4 separate regions of the Homo sapiens genome follow, and all the other regions are linked to region 4. Evidence: fine-mapped expression QTL. A gene starts in region 4. Each other region holds a variant in brackets. All regions are shown on one strand. Distances are between the middles of the regions. Region 1 has its middle 27 kb from the start of P3H2-AS1. Region 2 overlaps P3H2 (prolyl 3-hydroxylase 2). Region 3 overlaps P3H2 (prolyl 3-hydroxylase 2). Region 4 holds the start of P3H2 (prolyl 3-hydroxylase 2).

Evidence for each region. PIP is the estimated chance that this variant, and not a neighbour inherited with it, causes the effect.
Region 1: its variant is the best candidate, but not a certain one, in a credible set for the expression of P3H2 in esophagus mucosa (GTEx, PIP 0.77).
Region 2: its variant is the best candidate, but not a certain one, in a credible set for the expression of P3H2 in unexposed skin (GTEx, PIP 0.60).
Region 3: its variant is the best candidate, but not a certain one, in a credible set for the expression of P3H2 in thyroid (GTEx, PIP 0.86).

Annotation. Positions count from the first base shown.
Region 1 is chr3:190,145,340-190,149,589 of GRCh38, forward strand. No RefSeq gene overlaps it. Among named protein-coding and RNA genes, the nearest start is that of P3H2-AS1, 27 kb to the left of the region's middle. The variant AG/A (reference allele first, on the strand shown) is at 2,494.
Region 2 is chr3:190,023,412-190,027,661 of GRCh38, forward strand. The region is part of intron 1 of P3H2 (prolyl 3-hydroxylase 2); the gene reads right to left. Among named protein-coding and RNA genes, the nearest start is that of P3H2, 95 kb to the right of the region's middle. The variant C/T (reference allele first, on the strand shown) is at 2,231.
Region 3 is chr3:190,047,114-190,051,363 of GRCh38, forward strand. All of the region lies in intron 1 of P3H2 (prolyl 3-hydroxylase 2), which reads right to left. Among named protein-coding and RNA genes, the nearest start is that of P3H2, 72 kb to the right of the region's middle. The variant G/A (reference allele first, on the strand shown) is at 1,731.
Region 4 is chr3:190,118,632-190,122,881 of GRCh38, forward strand. P3H2 (prolyl 3-hydroxylase 2) reads right to left here and starts at 2,266. Exons shown (of 15, transcript NM_018192.4): 1 at 1,621-2,266. The coding sequence starts at 2,100. It overlaps P3H2-AS1 (P3H2 antisense RNA 1), which reads left to right and starts at 2,333. Exons shown (of 4, transcript NR_126419.1): 1 at 2,333-2,458. RefSeq lists silencers at 1,743-1,822, 2,033-2,262, 2,209-2,503 and an enhancer at 2,473-2,652.

The DNA of each region.
Region 1 (4,250 bases), 27 kb after region 4:
TTGGTGTTTAATCATTGCAGGGACGCCTCTCTGATTATTCACCCAGGTTTTAGAGGTGTCAGACCACGCAGGGACGCCTGCCTTAGTCCTTCACCCTTAGCGGCAAGTCCTGCTTTTCTAGGGGAGAGGCAAGTACCCCAACCCCTTCTCTCTGTGTCTCTACCCCTTCTCCACCTTTCTGGGGGGCAAGAAACCCGTAACCCCTTCTTCTTCACTCTTAGCAGCAAGTCCCGCTTTTCTAGAGGGGCAAGTACCCCAACTTCATATCTCTGCACCCCAATCCCTTATTTCCATGCCCCAACCTCTTATCTCTGTGCCCCAATCCCTTATTTCCACGCCCCAACCCCTTTCCTGCTTTTCTGGAAGGTAAGAACCCCCGAACCCCTTCCCTCTGTGTCTCTACTCTCTCTTTTCTCTAGGCTTGCTTCCTTCACTATGGGCAACCTTCCACTCTCCATTCCTCCTTCTTCTCCCTTAGCCTGTGTCCTCAAAAACTTAAAACCTCTTCAACTCACACCTGACCTAAAATCTAAGCATCTTATTTTCTTCTGCAATACCGCTTGACCCCAATACAAACTCGACAGTAGTTCCAAACAGCCGGAAAACGGCACTTTCAATTTTTCCATCCTACAAGATCTAAATAAATCTTGTTGTAAAGTGGGCAAATGGTCTGAGGTGCCTGACGTCCAGGCATTCTTTTACACGTCGGTCCCTCTCTAGTCTCTGTTCCCAAAGCAACTGTTCCCAAATCTTCCTTCTTTCCCTCCCACCTGTCCCCTCAGTCCCAACCCCAAGCGTCGCTGAGTCTTTCTAATCTTCCTTTTCTACAGACCCATCTGACCTCTCCCCTCCTCCCCAGGCTGCTCCTCGCCAGGCCGAGCTAGGTCCCAATTCTTCCTCAGCCTCCGCTCCTCCACCCTATAATCCTTTTATCACCTCCCCTCCTCACACCTGGTCCGGCTTACAGTTTCTTTCTGTGACTAGCCCTCCCCCACCTGCCCATCGGTGGCTGGAGCTAAAGGCATAGTCAAGGTTAATGCTTCTTTTTCTTTATCCCAAATCAGATAGCATTTAGGCTCTTTTTCATCAAATATAAAAATCCAGCCCAGTTCATGGCTCCTTTGGCAGCAACCCTGAGACACTTTACAGCCCTAGACCCTAAAAGGTCAAAAGGCCGTCTTATTCTCAAAATACATTTTATTACCCAATCTGCTCCCAACATTAAATAAAACTCCAAAAATTAAATTCCGGCCCTCAAACCCCACAACAGAATTTAATTAACCTCACCTTCAAGGTGTACAATAATAGAAAAAAGTTGCAATTCCTTGCCTTCACTGTGAGACAAACCTCAGCCACGTCTCCAGCACACAAGAACTTCCAAACGCCTGAACCTCAGCGGCCAGGCATTCCTCCAGAACCTCCTCCCCCAGGAGCTTGCTACAAGTGCCAGAAATCTGGCCACCAGGCCAAGGAATGCCTGCAGCCCAGGATTCCTCCTAAGCCACGTCCCATCTGTGCGGGACCCCACTGGAAATTGGACTGTCCAACTCACCTGGCAGCCACTCCCAGAGCCCCTGGAACTCTGGCCCAAGGCTCTCTGACTGCTTCCCAGATCTTCTTGGCTTAGTGGCTGAAGACTAACGCTGCCCGATCGCCTCGGAAGCCCCCTAGACCATCACGGACGCTGAGCTTCGGGTAACTCTCACAGTGGAGGGTAAGTCCGTCCCCTTCTTAATCAATACTGAGGCTACCCACTCCACATTACCTTCTTTTCAAGGGCCTGTTTCCCTTGCCTCCATAACTGTTGTGGGTATTGACAGCCAGGCTTCTAAACCTCTTAAAACTCCCCAACTCTGGTGCCAACTTAGACAATACTCTTTTAGGCACTCCTTTTAGTTATCCCCACCTGCCCAGTTCCCTTATTAGGCCGAGACACTTTAACTAAATTATCTGCTTCCCTGACTATTCCTGGATTACAGCTATATTTCATTGCCTCCCTTCTTCCCAATCCAAAGCCTCCTTTGCATCCTCTTGTATTCCCCGACCTTAACCCACAAGTATAAGATACATCTACTCCCTCCTTGGCGACCGATCATGCACCCCTTACCATCTCATTAAAACCTAATCACCCTTACCCCACTCAATGCCAATATCCCATCCCGCAGCATGCTTTGAAAGGATTAAAGCCTGTTATCGCTCGCCTGCTACAGCATGGCCTTTTAAAGCCTGTAAACTCTCCTTACAATTCCCCCATTTTACCTGTCCAAAAACCGGACAAGTCTTACAGATTAGTTCAGGATCTGTGCCTTATCAACTAAATTGTTTTGCCTATCCATCCTGTGGTGCCCAACCCGTACACTCTTTTGTCCTCAATACCTTCCTCCACAACTCACTATTCCGTTCTCCATCTTAAAGATGCTTTTTTCACTATTCCCCTGCACCCCTCGTCCCAGCCTCTCTTTGCTTTCACTTAGACTGACACTGACACCCATC[AG/A]GTTCAGCAAGTCACCTGGGCTGTACTGCCGCAAGGCTTCACAGACAGCCCCCATTACTTCAGTCAAGCCCAAATTTCATCCTCATCTGTTACCTATCTCGGCATAATTCTCATAAAAGCACACGTGCTTTCGCTGCTGATCGTGTCCAATTAATCTCCCAAACCTCAATCCCTTACAAAACAACAACTCCTTTCCTTCCTAGGCATAGTTAGTGCGGTCAGAATTCTTACACAAGAGCCAGGACTGCACCCTGTAGCCTTTCTGTGCAAACAACTTGACCTTACTGTTTTAGCCTAGCCCTCATGTCTGCGTGCAGTGGCTGTCGCTGCTTTAATACTTTTAGAGGCCCTAAAAATCACAAACTATGCTCAACTCACTCCCCACATTTCTCATAACTTCCAAAATCTATTTTCTTCCTCATACCTGAAGCATATACTTTCTGCTCCCCGGCTCCTTCAGCTGTACTCACTCTTTGCTAAGTCCCACAATTACCACTGTTCCTGGCCTAGACTTCAATCCGGCCTCCCACATTATTCCTGATACCACACCTGACCCCCATGACTGTATCTCTCTGATCCACCTGACATTCACCCCATTTCCCCAAATTTCCTTCTTTCCTGTTCCTCACCCTGATCATGCTTGATTTATTGATGGCGGTTCCACCAGGCCTAATCGCCACACACCAGCAAAGGCAGGTTATGCTATAGTACAAGCCACTAGCCCGCCTCCTAGAACCTCTCATTTCCTTTCCATCGTGGAAATCTATCCTCAAGGAAATAACTTCTCAGTGTTCCATCTGCTATTCTACTACTCATCAGGGATTATTCAGGCCCCCTCCCTTCCCTACACATCAAGCTCGAGGATTTGCCCCACCCAGGACTGGCAAATTAGCTTTACTCAACATGCCCCGAGTCAGATAACTAAAATACCTCTTAGTCTAGGTAGACACTTTCACTGGATAGGTAGAGTCCTTTCCTACAGGGTCTGAGAAGGCCACCGCAGTCATTTCTTCCCTTCTGTCAGACATAATTCCCCAGTTTAGCCTTCCCACCTCAATACAGTCTGATAACAGATGAGCCTTTATTAGTCAAATCAGCCAAGCAGTTTTTCAGGCTCTTAGTATTCAGTGAAACCTTTATATCCCTTACGGTCCTCCGTCTTCAAGAAAAGTAGAATGGACTAAAGGTCTTTTAAAAACACACCTCACCATGCTCAGCCACCAACTTGAAAAGGACTGGACAATACTTTTACCACTTTCCCTTCTCAGAAGTCAGACCTGTCGTCAGAATGCTACAAGGTACAGCCCATTTGAGCTCCTGTATAGACGCTCCTTTTTATTACGCCCCAGTCTCATTCCAGACACCAGACCAACTTAGACTGTGCCCCCCAAAAACTTGTCATCCCTACTGTCTTCTGTCTAGTCATACTCCTATTCACCGTTCTCAACTACTCATACATGCCCTGCTCTTGTTTACACTGCCGGTTTACCCTGTTTTTCCAAGCCATCACAGCTGATATCTCCTGGTGCTATCCCCAAACTACCACTCTTAACTCTTGAAGTAAATAAATAATCTTTGCTGGCAGGACTACGCTGAATCTCCTTAGGCACTCTAATTAGATGTCCTAGGTCCTCCCAATTCTTAGACCTTTAATACCTGTTTTTCTCCTTCTGTTATTCCATTTAGTTTTTCAGTTCATACAAAACCGTATCCAGGCCATCACCAATAATTCTAAATGACAAATGTTTCTTCTAAC
Region 2 (4,250 bases), 95 kb before region 4:
GAAGCCTCAGGAAACTTACAACCAGGGAGGATGGCGAAGGGGAAGCAATGAACCTTCTTTACGAGGCGGCAGGAAGGAGAAGTGCCGAGTGAAGCGGGTAGAGCCCCTTATAAAACCATCAGATCTTGTGAGAACTCACTATCAGGAGAACAGCATGGGGAAAACTGCCCCCATGACTCAATTACCTCCACCTGGTCTCTCCCTTGACATGGGCGGCGGGGATTATGGGGATTAGAATTCAAGAGGAGTTTTGGGTGGGGACACAAAACCTAACCTTGTCAATGAGAGTCTATTTATCTATGTAAAATTTGTTGGCAGTATTTAAAAGCATTGTGCAAGTCTACACTTGGAAGCCCAAAAGATTAAGTCCATAGATTGGATTTGCTATGAAGGCCAAATATTTGTGTATTTTGTTCAACTGTATTTAATTATGTTAGGTTTAATGTACTAATGTTTTACATAGTATTACAAAGGCAACATGATGTCCAGAAAGCTCTGTTACCAATACCACTTATTTTTATGCATCCACTACACATTACTGGTGAGATATAAAGTGAATTATTTAACTGTTAGGGTCCCGTTTCATCATCTGTAAAATATAAACATATGTGCTTTAGAGGATATACTATAATATTAAATATAATAAGGACATGGTGCATGGTGCCCCTGCAGTTTTTTTAATGCAGGGGCCCTGCTTGGTATGAAATAAATTAAGTGTATAAATAATTGTTCCTGAATTTTAAAATATCTATCAGAGTACACATGGTGCACATAGTATACAGCTAATATATAAATGTTAGCAAAAAATATAATATGTAAATCTTACTATTTACGACAGATGGATTGGCCAGGTGCAGTGGCTCACACCTGTAATCCCAGCACTTTGGGAGATAGAGGCAGGTGGTTCACGAGGTCAGGAGTTCGAGACCAGCGTGTCCAATATGGTGAAACCCTGTCTTTACTATTAGTAAAAATACAAAAATTAGCCAGGCGCGGTGGCGCATGCCTGTAATCCCAGCTACTCATGTGGCTGAGACAGGAGAATCACTTGAACTGGGGAGGCAGAGGTTGCAGTGAGCCAAGATATTGCCACTGGGCAATAGAGTGAGGTTCCCTCTCAAAAAAAAAAAAAAAAAAAAAAAGAAAGAAAGAAAGAAAAAAAATTGTAAATAGATGAATTCCAACAGTCTGAATTTACTTTCCTCTTTCATATGCATTGATGGGGCTCTTGGTAAATGTGTCTGATGCCTTCTGTCTGCTTTGGTACCTCTACAGGTTGTTATATCTGCAATGATGTGAATTTGTAAGGCTAGCAGAAGAAAACTCTATCGTCCCCAATATAAAAGAAAGACTGAGAATATAAAAAGAGGATTTCAAGCAAATAATGTGAGAGAAAACACACAGAATTACATTTTTCTTACAGACAATGTTAATATTGGAGTCATTTCAATTTACCTACACATGATCATAAATGGAAACCCTTCTCCACCCTAACACTGCCATAAATGTGGCAAGTACTTTTGTCCTTGATACCCAGAGGAAAATCCAGTCCAAAAACAGACTGACTTATCAAAAGACAAAAAAAAAGCCTTTTAAAAAGACTCTTAAAGGAACTATACAAGTGGCACTCTGTCGAGTCCTTGATATATGCTGTCATATTTAGCTCTTAAAATAGACCTATGAATATGTAAAGCCTACGAAATGGGGGCTTCCTGCTTAATGAATCATTTCCTCATCTGAATTTTTCAACCACAGTCACTAGTAGAACTTTTTTTTTTCTTTTTGCCTCTAACATAATGTTTCTCCAGGAATAATTTCCCTCAGAGACCGTAACTTTTCATCCTTTGTAAGCCAAAAGTCCATAACATTATTATCTTTTATTTTTCTCTTTCGCAGGCTAAAAAAACCAAGCTGCATTATCCCTCAATTACTTTTTAAATTCTTAATATTTTAATCATTAATAAGTAGCATGGTGAGTTAGTCAAGACTGTACACTCTAAAACTAAACTGGCTGGATTTTAATTTAACTGGTAATTTAGTAGGTTTGTTTTCTTGGACCACTAATTAACCTCTCTGTGCCTCATTTTCCCCAAGTATAAAGAAGACATAATAATAGTATTCACCTGTGAGGGTTATGATGCGGATAATGTAAATTGGCATTTGTTAAGAACTTAGAACTCTCCTTTGCATATAAGAGTTTGATAAAGCTATTATCATTATGTCTCACTTA[C/T]ATCTTCTTCTCTTTATATTGCAGCCCCAAAATAGATAAAAGTCAAATAGAAGTATGAATGAAAGAAAATAAAATGAATTCGAGATATTTTTGGAGCTGATTCATTTACAAATGGACTAACACATAATAAACCTCAGTCGGGAATCTTAGAAGTAACCATCAATGCTTCCCATAAGAATGGAAATTATCTGTAAATCAAGAGCAGAATCCTGACCATGGACCAAAAAAAAATTTTTTTTGAAAAGCTAATTTTAGAAATTTACTACTGGATTTACAGTACACTTTTTAAAGACCAAAATAATAAGTGTTTGTCTTTAGTAAGGGAAAGTACCTTTTAGAGTTGCTAACTTTATTTTGATTTGATTTTTTGTTTTTATTAACCATTATTTCTCGGGCCCTTGAAAACATTTTTCTTTCATCTGGGGAGGTTCTGTTAGTCAGTTTACAAAACTGGCAGCATTTCATTTTTTCAATGAAATTTAACAGAATTTTGTCTCAGCTTTTACATGATGTGTATGAACTTGAATAAATTCATCCCTTTCTTTTAGCCTGTTTACTTAAAAGTCAAATTTTGGGGAATTCCTGTAATCTCTTTCTTATAGTATTGTTGTGTCAGAGACGTTTGAACCAGAGCAACTCCATCTTGAGTAGTGGCTGGGTAAAAGGAGCCTGAGGCGTACTGGGCTGCATTCCCAGATGGTTAGGCATTCTAAGTCACAGGATGAGACAGAAAATCAGCACAAGATACAGGTCATACAGACCTTGCTGACAAAACAGCTTGCAGTAAAAACGCCAGCTAAAACCCACCAAAACCAAGATGGCGCTGAGAGTCACCTCCGGTCATCCTCACTGCTACACTCCCACCAGTGCTAGGACAGTCTACAAATGCCGTGACAACCTCAGGAAGTTACCCTATATGGTCTAAAAAGCGGAGGCAGGAATAATCCACCCCTTGTTTAGCATATCATCAAGAAATAATCATAAAAATAGGCAACCAGCAGCCCTTGGGCTACTCTGACCATGGAGTAAGTATTCTTTTATTTCTTTACTTTCCTAATAAACTTGCTTTCACTTTGTTCTGTGCAGTCACCCTGAATTCTTTCTTGCGGGAGATCCAAGAACCCTCCCTTTCTGGTAACATAAAGATTAAAGTAAAATAAGAAGTGCTTCATAAACTGAAAATATCATACGGGTATTAGTTGTTCTAATAACCAGGTCTGGTTTCCCAATCTGCGAAGTGTGTAGTATTTATCAAAACTCAATGAATATTTGCTGGGTGTATGAAGCTATAAAATGAAAAGGGGATAAGCTAGGAGAAAATATTTATACTTTATTTAAAACATAACTGCCTTCTACAATACGAGCCAAGCACTGTTTTAGGTGATTTCGAAACATTTACTCATTTAATACACATAACAATTTTATAAGGTAGGTACTACTATCATTCTCACTTACATATGACAAAACTGAGGCACTGAGAAGTACAACTAACTTCACCAAACAAATGGGTTGGAAATAACAGATAATGTAATGCAAACACAAGCAGTTTGGCTCTGAGGCCTGTAGTTTTAAACTATGATACCTAACTAAATCTCCGCCACTTAGCTCTGGACAGAGAAACCACCCAACAGATAATACTATACCATGAAGCAAAGATGATGTAAACACATCTTGTGGCATTTTATCTCTGTGTTCTATCCACAAGGGCAAGAACAGGGTTTCACAGCCAGCGAATTCCACCACTGTGGAAAATACAGTAACCCATTCTTAACCCACGTGAGGGACAGTGGTTGGGTACCTGAACAGTACTGGAATAAAATAATTAACTCTGAGGAATTATGACCTTATAATGAAACATCAGGTTATAGAGAAAGAGGTCATTAATTAAACTATAAAAGGGCTTGTACATATTTGTTGTATTTTCACTAAAATAAAGTAGATATTTAGATATAGGTTGGTGCAAAAGTAATTGCGGTTTTTACCTTTTTTTTTTTTTTTAAGCAATGGCAAAAACTGCAAT
Region 3 (4,250 bases), 72 kb before region 4:
TACAAATGACCAACAAGTAAATGAAAAGGTGCTCAACATCACCAATCATCAGAGAAATGCAAATCAAAACCACAGTGAGATATCATCTCACCCCAGTTAAAATGGCTATAATCCAAAAGACTTCATATAGCAAATGGTGACCTGACAATGATGTTGGTAGAGATACAAATCAGTGCAGCCACTATGGAAACCAATATGGAAACAGTATGGAGAGTCCTCAAAAAACTAAAAGTAGAATTACCATAAGATCTAGCAACCGCACTGCTGAGTATATATCCAAGGGAAAGGAAACTAGTGTATTAAAGAGGTATCTGTACTCTCATGTTTATTGTAGGAGTATTCACAATAGCTAAGCTGTGAAATCAACCTAAGTGTCCATCAATGAACATGAAAGTACAGATATCTAAACATAAGAGTTCCTGCAAATGACAGGGTTGTATTCTTTTTTATGGCTGAATAATATTCTCGTGTGTATATATACACCATGTTTCCTGTGAAGAAACATTTGCAGCAACATGGATGGAACTGGAGGACAGTATGTTAAGGTAAATAAGCCAGGCTCAGAAAGACAAATATTGCATGTTCTCACTCATATACAGGTGCTAAAAAATTGATCTCATAGAGGTAGTAAGTAGTCTCTGATGGCTACCAGAGGCTGGAAAGGGTAGTGGGAGAGGTGAGAATGAAGAGGCATTGGTTAATGGGTATAAAAATACAGTTAGATAGAAGGAATAAGTTACAGTATGGAATAGCACAGTAGGGAGACTACAGTTAACAATAATTTATAATCTATTGCAAAATAGCTAGAAGGTAAGATTTGGAAAGTTCTCAACACAAAGAAATGCTTTACCCTTGTTTTATCCTTTTTTTATGTATACAGGTCTTTCTTCTGATTTCTTGCATTTGAGAGAAGTGGCTGTCACAATGACTTCTGGAGGTACTTTAGAGGTCCCTCAAGGACTGTTGAATACAGAAGAGGAGCAGTTTCACCAACACAACTATCTTCATTTATTATTTTTTCTTCTCTCTTTTTAAAAAAATTACAATGATTCAAGAGATTTTATTTTAAAAATGGCTTCTGCTAACTTAAACATGGTTTGAGCCGGGTGTGGTGGTTGACACCTGTAATCCCAGCACTTTGGGAGGCTGAGGTGGGCAGATCACTTGAGGTCAGGAGTTCGAGACCAGCCTGGCCAACATGGTGAAACCCCATCTCTACTAAAAAATACAAAAGTTATCTGGGCATGGTGGCAGGTGCCTATAATCCCAACTACTTGGAAGGCTGAGGCATGAGAATCGCTTGAACCCGGGAGGTGGAGGTTGCAGAGAGCCGAGATCACACCACTGCACTCCAGACTGGGCAACACAATGAGAATGCCAAAAAATAGTTTTGAAAATAATATAACTACCATAGATTTTGCTTTATTTTACTAGATGATTTTTGTACCTGGTAGGCTATTGATGAACTATGACATTAATAACCAAGTATATTAAAAAACAAACAAATGAAAACAAAGTTAAAATGTAAGCTTGACATCACTGGCTATAAAAATTCTCCTGGAGAAGATGATCAGAATTGAAGCCTTTTAACTTTTCGGTGGACTATAGGGACAGTAGCAGGAGATCAGCTACATATCCCAGAAGCAATGTTTCTTCCAGGTCAGTATCATGTCATTCACAAGTGAAAAAATAAACACTAAAAATAAATAGAAGTTCTATAACAGAGACAG[G/A]AAAGGGACTCTCCTTGCTGTCTCCTGTCTACATGTCCTTTTAGCCTTAACACCTTCCAAAGGAAGGAGAAAAATAGCTTTGCAGGTTTGCAAATGTGTGTAGTTAGCATTTTAAGAACAAAAACGGGCTGCCTCTCACAGCTGTGTTGGAATTTGCTTCAGATTCTGCCTTCAAATCACAGAAGACGTGAGTAAGGGCACGTCCGTGACTCAGTCCTCAACCCTTGCCAAAGTAGTAGTTTTCTAGATATAAAACTACAGGGAAAGAAAAATAGAAAGTCAGAAGAGGAAGAAAAACTGCATGTTCATAAATCTTGCACAAAACTGAATCTCGAAGGTGTGATAAAAAGATCAGGATCGGGGAGTGTTTAGGAAAGAGAAACACACATATGTGAGGCACTACCTAACATTTCAATAGACACATGGTTTTTTTTTTCAGTCATATTAATTAAGTTCTGTGCACGGTGCTTGCACATAAATAAAACCAGATGCTTAAATTGTAGCTCAATCATTACGCTGTATTTGCTCACATCCCCTCCTGTACCACTTTCAAGAAATTGGCTTTTCGCCTAAATGGCAGGGGAGGGAAAGGGAAAAAAAGAAGAAAAAAAAGTTCTGGAGCTTTAGCCTTATTCTCAGGTTGATGAGTGGTTGTTGATATGTGACAAATACATTTCGCTTTCATGACATCTCTATGGAAAATTAAGAATTGTAGTTTTCTTGAGGCAGTTGAGATTCTTAAAGGAGTATTTATTCATCATGCTATTAATTTATTGGCCTTCATAAAAACTCTTTCAAAATTGTCACCTATCTATAAATAAGACTTAAAACCCACCCTCGGCTACATAGATACACACAAACACAAACACACAGATGTATGTGTGTGAATTTATAAAATAACCTGTCAATACATATGGAGAAAATAGTTTCACGGAATCAAAGTTATCTGGTTCACCTCCTTTAAGTGCATTTCCCAATGTGAGTTCTGAAGCATATTTGTTCCACGACATGTGAAAAACTGAGGGGCTTAAATAAATTGGGAAATGCCGGGTTACACAAAGTTAAACAGCTTTCTTTATTGTGGAACTTTCAGAGTCTCTAATATGCTGATGCACATTGTAAATATTCAAGAGGTCAACATACTCTGTAATATCTCTCAAAGCTGGTTGACCCAGAAACTTGCAAAATATCTTACAAGGGTGGTAATTTGCAGGACATGCAGTGAAAAATGCTAATATAAATCAATCTAAAATGTTCATCCAGTCTCTGATTAAATTTTCCCCATGTGAACAAAATTGCTACTTTCCAAAAGAGTTCATTCTGTCCTACGAAAGATCTAAGTCAAACGGGATTTCTTTCTTACGCTGAACCATAATCTATCTCTCTATAACTTCCACTATTGCTCTTGATTTTGCACTTTGGAAGAACAAAAAGAAGAGTAATGCAATTCCTTTTTCCTGCAATAGCTTTTTAGATATTTGAAAGCGACAATCATATTCACAAACTCTTCCATTTTGCAGGAAGACACAGCTCTAGTTCTTAAATGAATGCATCAAATTAATCCTCTCTACTTGTCAATGTCTTAAGACATGGGGCTTCAAAATGATTACAGAAATTCAGATCTCTAGAAGTATCTATGCTTCTATAGATGCAGACTTAGATGTCAGGTTTTGTTTTTTTCTGGAAGGCATGTCTTATCATTGATTCCAATTAATTTACTAAAACTTTCGAGTCCTCATAAATATTGTGGCTAAGTCAATTCTCTACAGTTCTATATCTGTATGATCATTTGTTTGTGTATATATGAGTTTTTTGAGGAATATTAGGAAAACACAAGTCCATTAGATTTTATTCGTCCTTCATGACAGAGACTGTGCTTTATAATAAAATTGGTCATCTTTTCTCAGTTACCTTCTCTTATAAAGTTATAATATCTCAGCTTCATGCAAATTCTATTACATTAGAAGAATGAAGAGTATTAGCCTGAAACTTACTACCTATACTAGTGACCTCCTTCCAGCTTAATACCAATTCATTACTTGATACCAAGTAAATTGTTTCACAAACCTACACAATACCAATGATAATACATTTATCTAGCTGGTCATGAAGTCATAATATAAAAGATACTGTCAAATGCCTTCTGAAATTAGGATATTAATCTGTAGCAATTTCCTAATCTGCGAACTGAAGCAGACCAGTCATAGCTATAGGTAGTGCAGGTCTTGTTAGTTCACCTGTGACATCAATAACTGTATCATCATGTAATTTGATAAGTTAGAATCAATAATGCAGAAACAGGACAATGCTAATGCCATTTGATGCGGGTACAGGTTAGGATTTAAAGGAAATAGGCTATTAATAGCTGGGAGGTTACTCTGGATGAGAAAAGAGTGAAGAGGCAACTGAAGAAAAAGTTACTTTTGTCAGGATGATGAACAACCAATACAAAATAACATTTGTTTTTTCTCTATAAAAAATGGAAATAGGAAAAAATGACATAGAATTTTATGGCATTAA
Region 4 (4,250 bases):
TTAGCCACAACACAAGGAAGTTAAGATTTATACTTAGTTGAAATTTCGTGCACTCCACCAACAGTTGCCAATCTGAGAGAACCCTACCACAGATGAGGGCAGAGATCTTGTGGGATGAGCTGCAAAAGGCATTTGGATATTTGAACATGGTATGTACTTTCATCTCCTTAGAAACACAGCCTGGTCCAGCCGTGCTCACGCCTATAATCCCAGCACTTTTGGAGGCGGAGACGGACGGGTCACCTGAGGTCAGGAGTTCGAGACCAGCCTGGCCAACATGGTGAAACCCCTTCGCTACTAAAAATACACAAACACACACAAAAATTAGCCCGGCATGGTGGTGCACACCTGTAATCCCAGCTACTCAGGAGGCTGAGGCAGGAGAATCGTTTGAGCCCGGGAGGCGGAGGTTGCAGTGAGCCCAGATTGCACCACTGCACTCCAGCCTGGGTGACAAGAGCAAAACTCCGTCAAAAAAAGAAAAGAAAAGGAAGAGAGGAGAGGAGAGGGGAGGGGAGGGGAGGGGAGGGGAGGGGAGGGGAGAGGAGAGGAGAGGAGAGGAGGGGAGAGGAGAGGAGAAAAGAAAGCAAAGCAGAGCACAGCAGAGCAGAGCAGAGCAGAGCAGCCTGGTCCATTGGCTAGCATGAACAACCAACCCCAAAGCTTCCACTTTTCCGGTAGCTGTAGAAGATACATTGATATATTAACACAGAAAACGAGAAAGAAGGGTTAAGAGTGTCAATTTGAAGGAAAATTGGGTGAGTGGCAGTGGAGGTTGAAGAACTCATTCAAATTCCCTCTGCTGAAGCATCCAGAGAGATCTTCAAAGTTATGGATGTGAACAATATGTCAATATGCATACTATACCTCCTGACGCTAACTTTAGGCAAGTTAGGCATACAAAAATAAAACTAGAAAGAGAGGACTGATGCCTAGTAACCCAGTCCAATGCATACCACCAGAAAACGTAAGCCCTCTATCAAAGGAGAAAAAGTCAACACTTAGGGTGGATACTTTGACTGAGACTGCCTCAAACAGCTTCGCCTCCTCCAAGCATACCTTCTCTTTAACCTTTGATCTTTACTTTTTTGTAGGTGAAGGGGAGAAGAGAGAGAAATTTGTTTTGGAACAGGTCTTTCAACTTCACTATTTTGAAGATTCTTTTAAACTTCAGAGAAAAGGTGCAGACTACAGTATAGGAAGGATAAGAGAGAGGAGACAAAAGAAATGGGAAGTGAGAAGGGAGAAGAGAAATGGGAAGTGAGAAGGGAGAAGAGAAATGGGAAGTGAGAAGGGAGAAGATAAATTGTACTAGATTCAGCTTTGTCAATGCCTCATGAATTAGTGCTGAATGGGTACTTTAAACATCACCTTATCAGGACAGTCCTCTTTTTGAGAGAGAAGCTGGCTCTGAGAAAGAGAGAAAAAGACTTGTCCAAGTTAATCAATTGTTGCATACAGAGATAGGGCCACCAGATATCTGGATTCACAAACTGAGACACATATTTAAGGAGACCCAATTCGAAAGACTGAACAGAGATGACGGGGGCAGCAGGGAGGGCTCAAGAGAGCGTGTGAGAGCCGCAGGGGCTTTGCAGTGGAGGAGCGCTCTGTGGGTACCTTGATGTAGGCCCGCTGCAGGTAGTTGTAGGGCACTCTGCGCTGGAAGTCGCTGCGCACATCCTCGCTGACGCGGTGGCGGGATGCGGGGCCCCCGAGGCGCTGGGTCTCACAGCTGCGATAACAGCGCGCCCGCCCCAACAAGGAGCGGAAAAGGGGCAGCTCAGCGCCGGGGCCCTCGCCGGGGGGCGGGGGCGGGAGCGGGTGGCGCGCCGCGCAGTGGCGGGCACAGCGCGTGCGGATTTCCCGCAGGCGCCGGTGGCTGCGCAGCGCCGCTTCCAAGTCGCGCACCGCTCGCTCGTAGTCTCCGCTGTAGTAGGCGGCCGCGCCGCTGGCGTAGAGCAGGTCGAAGGGCTGCAGAGGCCCGGGCTCCAGCTCCAGCTCCCGGCGTGGGCTGTCCGGGGGGCCGCCCCACAGTGGCGGCGGCAGTAGCAGCGGCAGCAGCAGCAGCAGCGGCGGCGCCCAGATGCGCTCCCGCATCCTCCGCCTCAGAGAGGCGCGGGACGGTTACGCTCGAGAGGGCTTCGGGGCACCTCGCGTCCGGGTCCCCTCTCCCACCTTCCCTCGGGGAAGCGCGCCGACTCCGCCGCGATCTGGCCGCTCCGCGAGCCCCAGGTGACCGCCGGCGCTCCGCGTACTGAGAGGCGGAGGCCGTGCCTGGCCAGCCGCTCTTAAAGGGACGCCCACAGCTCACACGCTCCTCCTGCTGCCTGAGACTCCGAGAGCCGCTCTCCCAGGCTCCCCGCTGCAGCGGCGGGGCTGCCAGGGGCGGCACACTCCAGCGCCAGCCAGAGAGCTAGCGCCGCTTGAGGCCGGCCGGGGACGAGGCGCTTTACACGTGAGCTCCCTTCTGGTTGTACAAGTGGATAGTATTAGTCTTCTTTTTGGGAAATAAAGAAAATCCAGCTTAGCAAGGTTAGGGCCTTAATCATATTCTGGAATCTCTGTATGGCCTCGCAGTTTGCAGAGTGCTTCACCTTCTAAATGAAGCCTGGAGCGCCATTTCAGACTGAATCAAACCGTAGATGCCATGTGTACCTACGCAACAAATCTGCGCATTCTGCACGTGTATCCCGGAACGTAAAGTTAAAAAAAAAAAGAATAAATAAATAAATAAATAGAAAAAAAACCCATAGAGGCCCTGTAGGCCCAGATGCGGAGGTTTAAGAAGATAAGTGATTTGCCTAAATGCATAGAGCTGAGAAGTGGCAAAGGACGGACCCAACCCAGGGCCTTTAGAACCAAAGCTTACCGCTTCTTCTCTTGGGGAAGGTTTCTCCCTTACCTTTTCGTCCAACTTGGTGTGGATGTGTGTCCGGGCATTGGATCAGGGCGCTGGGCCAGGGGAAGAACAATATATAGCCTGCCTTTCCTGTGCAGCCCGTGGTTTTACAGGGCCCAGAGAACCTTTGGAGGCAGGAGGAGCTGTACTCGCATTCTGGCTCCGTCCGTTTACCAGCTGTGTGACCTTGGCAACTGAGGGCCTCAGTTTCCTCATCTCCTAAACAGCCAGACGCCTAACACGTAAAATGCTATTCAGAAAAAAATTCTTGCTGTGGGCCAGGTGCAGTGGCTCACCCCTGTAATCCCAGCACTTTGGGAGGCCAAGGCGGGTGGATCACCTGAGGTCAGGAGTTCGAGACCAGCCTGGCCACCATGGCAAAACCCCGTCTCTACTAAAAATACAAAAATTAGCTGGGCGTGGTGGCACGTGCCTGCAGACCCAGCTACTCAGGAGGCTGAGGCAGGATAATTGCTTGAACCTGGGAGGTGAAGGTTGCAGTGAGCTGAGATCATGCAGCCTGGGTGACAGAGTGAGACTCCGTCTCAAAAACAAAAAAAACAAAGAAAAAGAAAAGAGAGGAGAGGAGGGGAGGGGAGGGGACGGGAGAGGAGAGGGAAATTCTTATTCTAAGAGTTGAACAAAGAGGCAATTTAGTATATCCCTTACCTCAAGGAATTAAGCAATCTGCATCAATCTAGGAATGAGAAAGCTGACAGAAATGGTTGCCAGATTCCAAACGACTAGCTGGAGGCTTCCTGTTCCTCCCCTTCTCCTCTGTCACGAATACATTCTTAGCCAAGGTGTTCCCCTCTTTCGTGTTCCTTGGCTTCACACTCTCACAAGAATATTGGTTGGACCCTGGATCCCAGCCTGCCTCCTGGAGGCATTTCTGTGGTCTTCTAGTGCCTGTGAGAATCTCATCAGTCTTTCAGCCCCTGCAATGGTGAGCAGAGGGACAGGCAATGGGAAAAAGACTCACGCATGTATCTAGTTGCTATGATTTTTCCGAAGAAGGCTTTTATGTGGAATCACCACTACGCTGAGGGGCTTGCCAGAGATTCATGCTGATTCCTTCATTCATTTTGTTAGGTTTGACCACTCAGGCCATGAACAGCCCTGGCTGTGTAATTCCAAGAGACACTGATGAATCATGCTCTTTTTTTTTCCCACCAAACGTTACTAATTCGGCTCATATCACTGATGAAAAAGCTCCAGTTTGGAGCTGAATGTATATTGAATGCCTTGGATGGTCAGTGTTCCAGAATTAGCACATCAGTCATCTGCCCAGACTTTTTCTCTAGAGATTGTCTGTTTTCAGATAAAGATTTTGGAGTCTAGTCCAGGG